Regions from separate parts of the Homo sapiens genome. Here region 2 is linked to region 1. Evidence: fine-mapped expression QTL. A gene starts in region 1. The other region holds a variant in brackets. All regions are shown on one strand. Distances are between the middles of the regions. Region 1 holds the start of MAMLD1 (mastermind like domain containing 1). Region 2 overlaps MAMLD1 (mastermind like domain containing 1).

The links. PIP is the estimated chance that this variant, and not a neighbour inherited with it, causes the effect.
Region 2: its variant is fine-mapped to the expression of MAMLD1 in blood mononuclear cells (TOPMed, PIP above 0.99). The same link has a PIP of 0.9 or more in whole blood.

The regions. Positions count from the first base shown.
Region 1 is chrX:150,361,030-150,365,409 of GRCh38, reverse strand. MAMLD1 (mastermind like domain containing 1) reads right to left here and starts at 2,093. Exons shown (of 8, transcript NM_005491.5): 1 at 1,880-2,093.
Region 2 is chrX:150,477,347-150,481,726 of GRCh38, reverse strand. The region is part of intron 5 of MAMLD1 (mastermind like domain containing 1); the gene reads right to left. Among named protein-coding and RNA genes, the nearest start is that of MTM1, 89 kb to the left of the region's middle. The variant G/A (reference allele first, on the strand shown) is at 2,635.

The DNA of each region.
Region 1 (4,380 bases):
CTCGGCCGTCCCGGCCGCCAGGATTTAGGGTGTCCAGGGCTGGCAGGCCGGGCGTGCAGCGAGGGCCGGGGCTGAGGCTCCGTGCGCCTTCGTGGGTTCCCACAGAGGGTCCTCGAAACACAGCCCCCTCCCCCATCGCCTACACTTGCCCTCCTGTCCCGAGCGGCTCGAAACCACTTGGAGACAGCCGCCCCCGCCCTCTGCCTCTGCGTCCCTTTTCCCCTTCCCTCTCTCCAGCCTCCTGGGAAACAAAGGGGCTTTTTATAAAGCGGATTGTTGGCGGCGGCGGCGGCGGGGGTGGGAGGGAGGGGGGATCTATAAAGACAAGAAGAGGTGGGAGGGAGGGAAGGAAAGAAGCTGCGCGGCCTCCAGGGGCCCAGAGCTGCGGTGGCGGCCGGGAAGCCCCGGCGGGTGCACGGTCGACCCCGCCCGGCCGGTGGGCACTCGGGCGGCAACCCACGCCTGCCAAGAGCTGGGCCGCGCCGCTGCGATGTCGCTCGCCGGCTCACCGCAACCAGGGAACACAATTCCCCAGGCGCGGGCCGGGGCCGCTGGGGGCGGCGCAATTCCCGCGGGGGTCTACCCCGGGAGACCCAGGCCCTCTCCCTAGCCAACTCTTTCAAAATTGCTTGGTCTCAGGGAGACTTTGCGCCTTTGTTCCAGCGCAGCCGCCTCTAGTAAGCTCGGCTCGCTCGCCCTTGCAGACAATGTCCCGGAGCCGGCCTGGGTTTGCCTACCCGTGAGCAGCACGTTCACCGTGGGGACCGCGCCCCCGGGGGGCACCGTGGTGCCAAACAACAACGACAAGCCACCCCAGCAAAAGCAGCCCCTTCTCCCCACGTCCCCCAGCCACGCTGTGCTCCCGCCCGCTCACACACACCCACACTCCGGGTGCCCAGGTCAGCCGCACCCAGCTGCAGAAGCGCGGCGGGGCGGGAGTGAATGCTCCAGCCCGAGGCGCGTGTTTGCACAGGTTCCGATGGCTTCAGGGCCGAGCTTTCTGGCAGGCTAATCCTATTAGTGTCTGCTCAGTCCGAATTTAATCACGGATCAGAATCAGACGACATCTCCAGCTTTCCAGGAGGCTTCGGACACACTGCATTGGGACGGAGCCTGGCCAAGCCAACTGGCCGAGAAAAGTATTTGGCGGCGCTCCGGGGGGCTTCCCGCCCGCGCTAGCCGGCGCCGGGCGCCCAGCTCTGTCGTCGCGCGGATGCTGGGGAACCTGAAGCGCGGACTCTGACGCAGGGGCGCCGGGGCTGCTCCGCAGGAACCCAGTCCGGGCTGCCCTGAACACCAGCTCAGCTCCGGGCTGCGCTTCCCAGGAGTTGGCAGGGGAGGGAGTGCAGGGCAGCGGATTCGGCGCGCACACTCCACACTCTCGCTCAGAGGCGGCAAACAGCGTTGGGGTGGGGAAATCCTTCATCCAGCGCCCACTGCCTACTGGCCTGGGCTCAGGCAGCTGGCATGTGAAGGCACCGTCGCCGGTGACACCCAGGCTGCAAGCGACCCGGGGGTGCTGGGACAGAGTGGGAGCCTCCCAGTAGCCCAGCGTAGCCCGAGGAGCTTGCGCCCTTCTACCTTTCCTCCCCGGTACGTGGCTGTCCCCGCCGGATTTCAGACGCCCGACGGGCGCCGAGCCAAAGGCCGTGGTCTCCGGCGTTTCGAGCTGCGCCCAGCCCAGCCGGGCTGGTTCGAGAAGGGGGTGGCCGCCCGCAGCGCCAGGTGGGCCGTGTGCTCAGAGCAAACTTTAGGGTCTACCGACTCGAAGCACCCCTGGGACCCCGATCCTCAGCGATGGGGACCATAACTGGGGGCTACAAGTGTACCCCGGAACCCCCAGAACAGTCAGACTTCCTGCACCCGCCCTCAGCCTTACCGTGCTGCAGAGCTCCGGCGGCGGCGGGGGCAGTGTCCGAGGGGCGGGCGGCCGCCGGCGCGGGCAGCCTGGACTCAGGCGGCCGCCAAGGAACCCAGCCCTGTTGCAGATCACCCCCTGGCTAGCGGCCGGTGCCCCCGCGCCCGCCCGCCGCCGGCCGCTTCAGCTCGCGGCCAAGTTCATGCTGGCGGCGCTGCAGTGGCGGCCTCAATCTGCTCGCTCCATTCCCACCGCCCGGCTCCGCGCCGCGCGCCCGGAAGGTGGAGTTTCGGGGGTTTAAGTTACTGATAGGCATTTCTCACTGCTGTGTCACTCGGGGAGGAGGAGACACGCACGCCGCACACTCACACACCCTCACACTCACGGCGACGAGCGGCTCCGGCCTTAAAGGGGAAGCCGCGCTGCCCTGCCCGCGACCCCGCCAGCCCGAAGCCTGGAAACTCAGGGTTTCCACTCCGGGATGGGGCAGCGGGCAGCCAAAGAGCTGCGGCCGCCCGAGGGGCCTCCCGGGCCCTCCCACCAGTCTTTAGAGGAGAAAGCGGCCGCAGGCTGGCTTCGCTGTTGCAGCCTCATTTCTCCAGTCGGCTCGAACCAGGGCAGCTGGGGAGGGATCGGAGGGGCGGAAGGGGCATCGGTGCACTCACCTTGGCTGCTCCGCACTCAGTGGAGGGTGGTCTGTGCCCCCGGCGTCAGCTGGCTTGCCTAGGCGGTGCGCTGGTGGAAAGAGGCGACAGCAGGGTTAGCGGAGCGCCTCCAGCAGACAGAGCCCGCCGGAGGGCCGCAGGCGGGGCCCGGCGCGCTTGGGAAACCCGCACGCCGAAGGTAGACTTTCCGCGTCTGGGGAAAACGAGCTGGTGAGCCGTGCGTGGCCGGGACACACGAAGAGCGAGCACGGAGAGCCAAAAGCCAGCGGTCATCAGTGACAGGGCGAGAGAGCGCTCAGGACCGAGAGACCAAGAAAGACAGGAGACCGTACGAGACACAGAGAAGGCAGAGACTGAGAGACAGATACCGAGAGAGGCACCGGCGGAGATAGAGGTAGAGACACGATGAAGGGAGAGGAGAGGAGAGGAGATGAGAGGAGAGGAGAGGAGAGGAGGAAATAAGGAGAGGAGGAGAGGGACCAGAGAACAAGAGAGCTTGCAAGAGGAATGACAGATCCCCAGAGGACCCTGAAGTGTCACAGGGACGGGAGTCTCATCACAAAGTAGCCTATTCAGCCCCCATCCCCCTTCCCATTTTCACCAGAGCCTGACCCTAGGGCTAGCGGCCAGGCCCTTCTCCTCCCCTCGCCCTGGGAGGGGCACTCACCTGCAGTGGGTGGCTGCTGGGTGGGTAGCGCCAGTCCCTCCGCCCACGCATCCGCTCACCAGCTCGCGCCCTGACTGCCAAACAGACCCGCTGTGGCGGCAGCGGGGACCAGGGCTCTCAGGTGGCAGTTAGTGAACTGCATTCTCTCCATCCCGGCCGAGTGCCCCACTCCCCACTTCCCAGTCCCCCACCCTTAGCGCGGACGCTGTCGGCGTCGCCCGCCAGTACGCTTAGCTCAGAGTCCAGGCTCGCTGGCCAGTCTCCCGTTCCACTGGACCAGGGCACGCGATGCTCCCGCCCAAGCTGGGCTGGATTGGCTCCCTCCGCAGTTATCCCAAGACGGACACCTGCGGCTTCTGCAGGAACATAGGTTCCTTGGGAACTGCCGGGCGGGCCAGCGCGCCCTGTCCACCATCTGCCCTGGCGCCGAGTCCAGCGACTCCCCTCCCACCTATCCCACCTCCCGGGTATTTGGCTGCGCCCCTTCTCTAGGATCCCCTCCCCGGATGCGTTTCCTAACCTGGACTTCTCCAGCCGATGGCAGCTGCAGGGGCTGAGCACAACCCGGGAACGCCGCGTCTGCTCCGACAGCAGCAGCGCTCAGCTCCTGTCCGCACCTCTGAGTAGCAACCTGTCACCAACACATCTGGTCACGCTCAGCGGAGCCGCAGGCCACGAATAAAGGGGTGGGCCCGCCGCCCACTAGGCCCCTCCTTCCCTCCACGCCCACGCTCTCGGCCCTCGGAAAGCGCTGGGGCCACCTCCGAGAACCCAGCAAGATCCCTTCGTGGGCTACGTAGGCGCAGTGAGGCTGGGCGATTGCCTCCTAGCGTTTCACGAAGTTACCTGGAGGAAGAGCGGCGTCCAGGCCCAACCGCGAGGCACATGCAGGGGCTGTGGCTTCGCAGCCCCAGCGCTGCCAGGATGCGCCCAGCCCAACAGGGCGAGGCTGGGGGTACACAGTTCGTCAGGGCAGTTGTGAAGGAATCCGCCTTGTCTGGGTCCAGTCCTGTCTGCTCTGCAAAGGGCAAGCAGCCAGAAGAGGTTATTGCTCTCTGGTGACTGAACCTTACCTTCAAGGCCCTCCAGGGAGAGCTAGAGTCATCTCAGGGTTGCCAGTGCCCCGGTAGAACTGCGAGAGTGCGGGAGTCCCTTGAAGGAAATCTGATTAAACAAAGCTGAATGGGAGA
Region 2 (4,380 bases), 120 kb before region 1:
TCCGGAGTAGCTGAAACTGCAGGCAACGCCACCATGCCTGGTTAATTTTTGTAATTTTTTGTAAAGGTGGGATCTCACTATGTTGCCCAGGCTGGCATTGAACTCCTGGCCTCAAGCGATCCTCCCACCTCGGCTTCTCAAAGTGCTGCGATTACAGGTGTGAGCCACTGTGTCCAGCCTTGCTTTCGATTCTTTTAGGCATATACCCAGAAGTGGAATCACTGGATCATACGGTATTTCTCTGTGTAATTTTTTGAGGAACTGCCGTACTTTTTTCCACAGTGGCTGCACTATTTCACATTCCCACCAACAATGCACAAGGGTTCCAATTTCTCCACATCCTCACCATCACTTGTTATTTTCTCTCTCTGTGTGTATGTGTTTATAATAACCATCCCAATGGGTGTCAACATTTTGGTGTTTGAAGATGTGAAACTAGAAAGCTATAGTGGAGTGCATTGTCTGTTCACATTTTCCAGAGCTCATCTTTGAAAGGATTGCCAGATAAAGGGAAAGGGTCATGGAATCATTCCCAGTTATTCCCACTCAGGGATGGGTGAGGGCCTCCCACATCGTTCAAAGCTTTGTCACATGGAAATAAATGATCATTAATCACAATTGCAAATGAGTAGTCCACCTTCATCTGTTGGTCTGCTGAGCCAGCTGGCTTTGGCAAATTCTCTTCATGGGCCACCCCGACATGGGCCTGCAGAAGAATATGTGTCTCCACAGCTACGCTCACCTCCTCTGCTCAAAACTGGAAGATGGCCGGATTTGGTAGCATGCTACAGGGGAAAAAGCTGGCCGGAACCTGAGCCTTTAGCTGCAAACTGAAAGCTCCCACAAGCAAAGCAAGAGGTGGGATAATTCCTAGTGAGGTACAGCTATCCATCTTTCAGGCCCTGAAGGCCACCTTTAGCCCAGGACTATATATATAATGTCCTGGAGCACCCACTTTTATTTTTCCTGTGCACCTAGCTCCAATAACCCAGCCAAGGCCTGTGGCTCTGTGCTTTTCGTCTGTGTGAGTCCTAGCTGCACGTTACCAAGAAACTTGGTTCACATGGGGTAAAGGAGAAAACATCGAAGAAATGGATGAATGCTGACTCTTTATTCCACTCTCTATCTTAGAAACTGTTGCTGAGATGAGAGTTAAGAGTCAGCTGTCTGAAGACACCTGCAGAGGTGAGCCTGTGGGTGAGGTGGGGTGATCTCTTTGGGCCTTTCTGCTGCTTTTGGCTTTCAACAACCTTACTGCTTTGGATGGGTGCAGCCGGCATGATAAACACTCATCTAGCAAAAAACACAACATGATAAAACAAACAAAAGCAGTGTTTGTCATTGTAGGCAAAATAACAAAATCAGATAAAATCCCAGACTGTTTCAACTCCTTAGGAAAAAGCAGAAACTTTCTTTTGGATCTGGGAGCAGGGTGCTTTAAATGTAACCAGCATTCTACCCTCTGCTATCCCCTTCAAGCTAAAAAGCAGCCAGGTCAGGCCCCACATAGTTGTTTTACAGGGCAGGCCCAGATCGTGGGATTTGTCAATCCCTAAGGGACAGAACAGGCTAAAAGTACAAATAGACTCGGGAAAGGATTCCATAAATCCACGATATGGGACCATGAGTGGATCTGAGAGTCAGAAGCTGGAAGTGAGAGTCAGAAGTGGATCTGAGAGTCAGAAGCACAGGATGGGGAGGGGAGGGTGCAGTCCAGCCCTCTGAGTACTCATCCTTTGCTCACCTGGATGGAAGGGTCACGTCTTTGATTCCCCTTGGCGCTCTGCACCATCCACTCCTGCACTCAGTGACAGTGCTGGCTGTAGGTGTTAGGGCCACAGCTGAATGGAGCAAGTCTACCGTGAGTTTCATCTGCTCTAGATCTTGTTTACATTTTGCGAACTTTTCACCTGGGGACATAGTAGTAGTAGAGCGACAGCACTTCTCTTTCATGTTTGTTGTGTGCGCAAAACTGGACTGCTCGCTCCATATGGTGTTCTGTGTTTTGGGTTTGTAGGTATTCATAAGGAGATACAGCTTAAAGCAGCACGACACAATGATTTATTTCTGTCCTCTTACGTTCTTTGAAAAGCGCAATGAGATTCCTTGCCTTGCTTTACAGTGACAAATAAGTAGGTTGTCTTAATTAACTTAGCATAAAATAATTTGTGCACTTCATTTTTAAAAGGGCTCATTTTGGGTGTCCTAACTTCAGCAAGTTTCCTTGTTTCTCTTCAGATATGTTAAGACAAAACAAACAAAAAACAAAACAAAAAACTTGACAGGAGGTTTCTGAAAATGATTGCCTCTTCAGCTTTCATAAGCCAGTTACTAAGCAATGAAAAAAATTGTATCTATTGATCTCTACTACTGATGCATCTTAAGTAGGCGGCCTTGTGCATCCCCGTAAGTTTTGGGGTTGACCACACTAACTGATGGCTCATTCCTCCAGGGGAACAATGTAAAGTCACCTTCATTTGAAAGTGTCGTCTCACTTATTCTTTAACTTTTAATAGAAAAAAAATGTTGACATTTAAAAGGTTAGCATTTAACAAGCAGCTCATTTTAAATTTCCGCTTTTTGAAAAAGAAAAATAGCTTTGAGGTGGAGGATCACTAATGGCCCTTAGAAACC[G/A]AAAAAGAAACTGAAAAAAAAACTTTTTTTTGATTCTTGGTAAGATTAATACCAAGTTCTAAGCCTGTGTTTCCCAAATTCAACAGCCCATGTGGTTTCATTTCCTGGCAATTTAGAGAGGTTAAAACAAAACATTTTCAACACTGAGATATCGGTCCCCGAATTTTCAAAATGCATGTTACACGGTGTCTAATCATAGTTCCACACAAAACAGCTAAGAAAAAGTTTCCCGAAACCAAACAGCTCTTTGCAGCTTAATTTAGAAAGAATGGTAAAACTAAGCTTGTATGTACCATCATGTTTAAATACAAAATAAGAATGCTCATTCAGGAAAACATTTCCTTGTCTGCCAGAGAATACGCACAGGGCAGGCCCCGGCTCTGACCCACGGGCTCTTTGAAATCTGCCTGGTCCCCAGTCCTTTATCTGGCAAGTGGAGGCACTTCCTTACTTATCATTTGACTGGTGGACAACACAGAGATTCCTCTAGAGGCTTCTGTTCTTGCATTTTAGCAGGACTAACCTTTGAAATAAAATCTGTGATGTTTCTCGCCAGAATTAGTAAAAGACAAAATTTCTCTGAGAACACAGACAGCAGTATTGCTCTCCCGCAAGCCTTACTCTCAAAACGAGAGAGGAATGCAGGGAAGTGAGGGAGAAGACCTGTAAGTCCAAGGTGACAGGCCCTTCCTTGAAAATATGTGGTGGATCTGATTTTGGGGTGGAGGTCATGTATTTTAGTAATATAATAATTACTTTTTGAAAATGTTAATGAGTGATTCTGAGACTAGGAAAAGGCTCACTTGCTGTCTCTGCCTCTCCTGACTCTAGTTGTAAATGGAGCAGATGTAACTTTGATCAGAATCGGAAATTCTCTTGGCCTCACTAACCTGGTTTGTTCCTTTTTGTTTTCCATGAAAAGTCATGGTTCAAATATAAAGAATTTAATTTGCAGAGCTAATTGAGACAGCAGTAATTAAAGGTTATGCCCTACTGAGTGGGCTAGTGTAGCCTTGGAAGTTCAAACCAAAAGGAATCTTGGGTTTCTGCAAAGATTCTTTTTGGAGGCTTTAGGAGTGAGAGTCAGTGGTGCAGAAGAAGGACGGAAACGAGAGGAGAGAGGGGAGGTATCCCCTCAGGATGCGTGCTCTGTGCGCCATGACTATGCAGGACCAGCTTTCCTTCCTGGCCACTCATGTACACGCTTTCCGCCCTGTTCATTGTCACTGTGTATCAGTAAGCCCTCTGCCTGAGTCTTGAAATGTCAGGCACCCCTGAGCCTGCTGCAAGCAGGTGGGGTCAGATCCACGCTGGCTGCAGGTGGAACTTAGCTCCTCCTTCCCCCTCCTCTCTGCCCACCTAAAGTCGTCCTGTGGTTGCATTTGTTATTCAGCATCCACGTAACTCCTAGAAGTTCAGCTGGCCGTGCTTAGAGGGAAGAGAAGACAACATTCTCCCCTACCCACGGTCAGGGGCACTCAGGAAACCACAGCCTGGCTTGGCGGCTCTACTTCCTTCTGGAGTCACCAACCTGTGTCTGCTGCCTTGGCTGCTCCTCAGCCACCTGGCAAAAGTCTTCCTTAACGCCCCTAAGGGACTGTCCGTGAGCACGCAGCCCCAGAGGGACTGAGCTCTCCCCTGCCCTTTCTCTCCAAGTCACCGTCCACCCCTGGGGGTCAGAGAGGAGCCTGGATGCTGAGCCGAGGCTGACTAAATTCATTCCATTGGGTTACTGGTGTTCTGGGT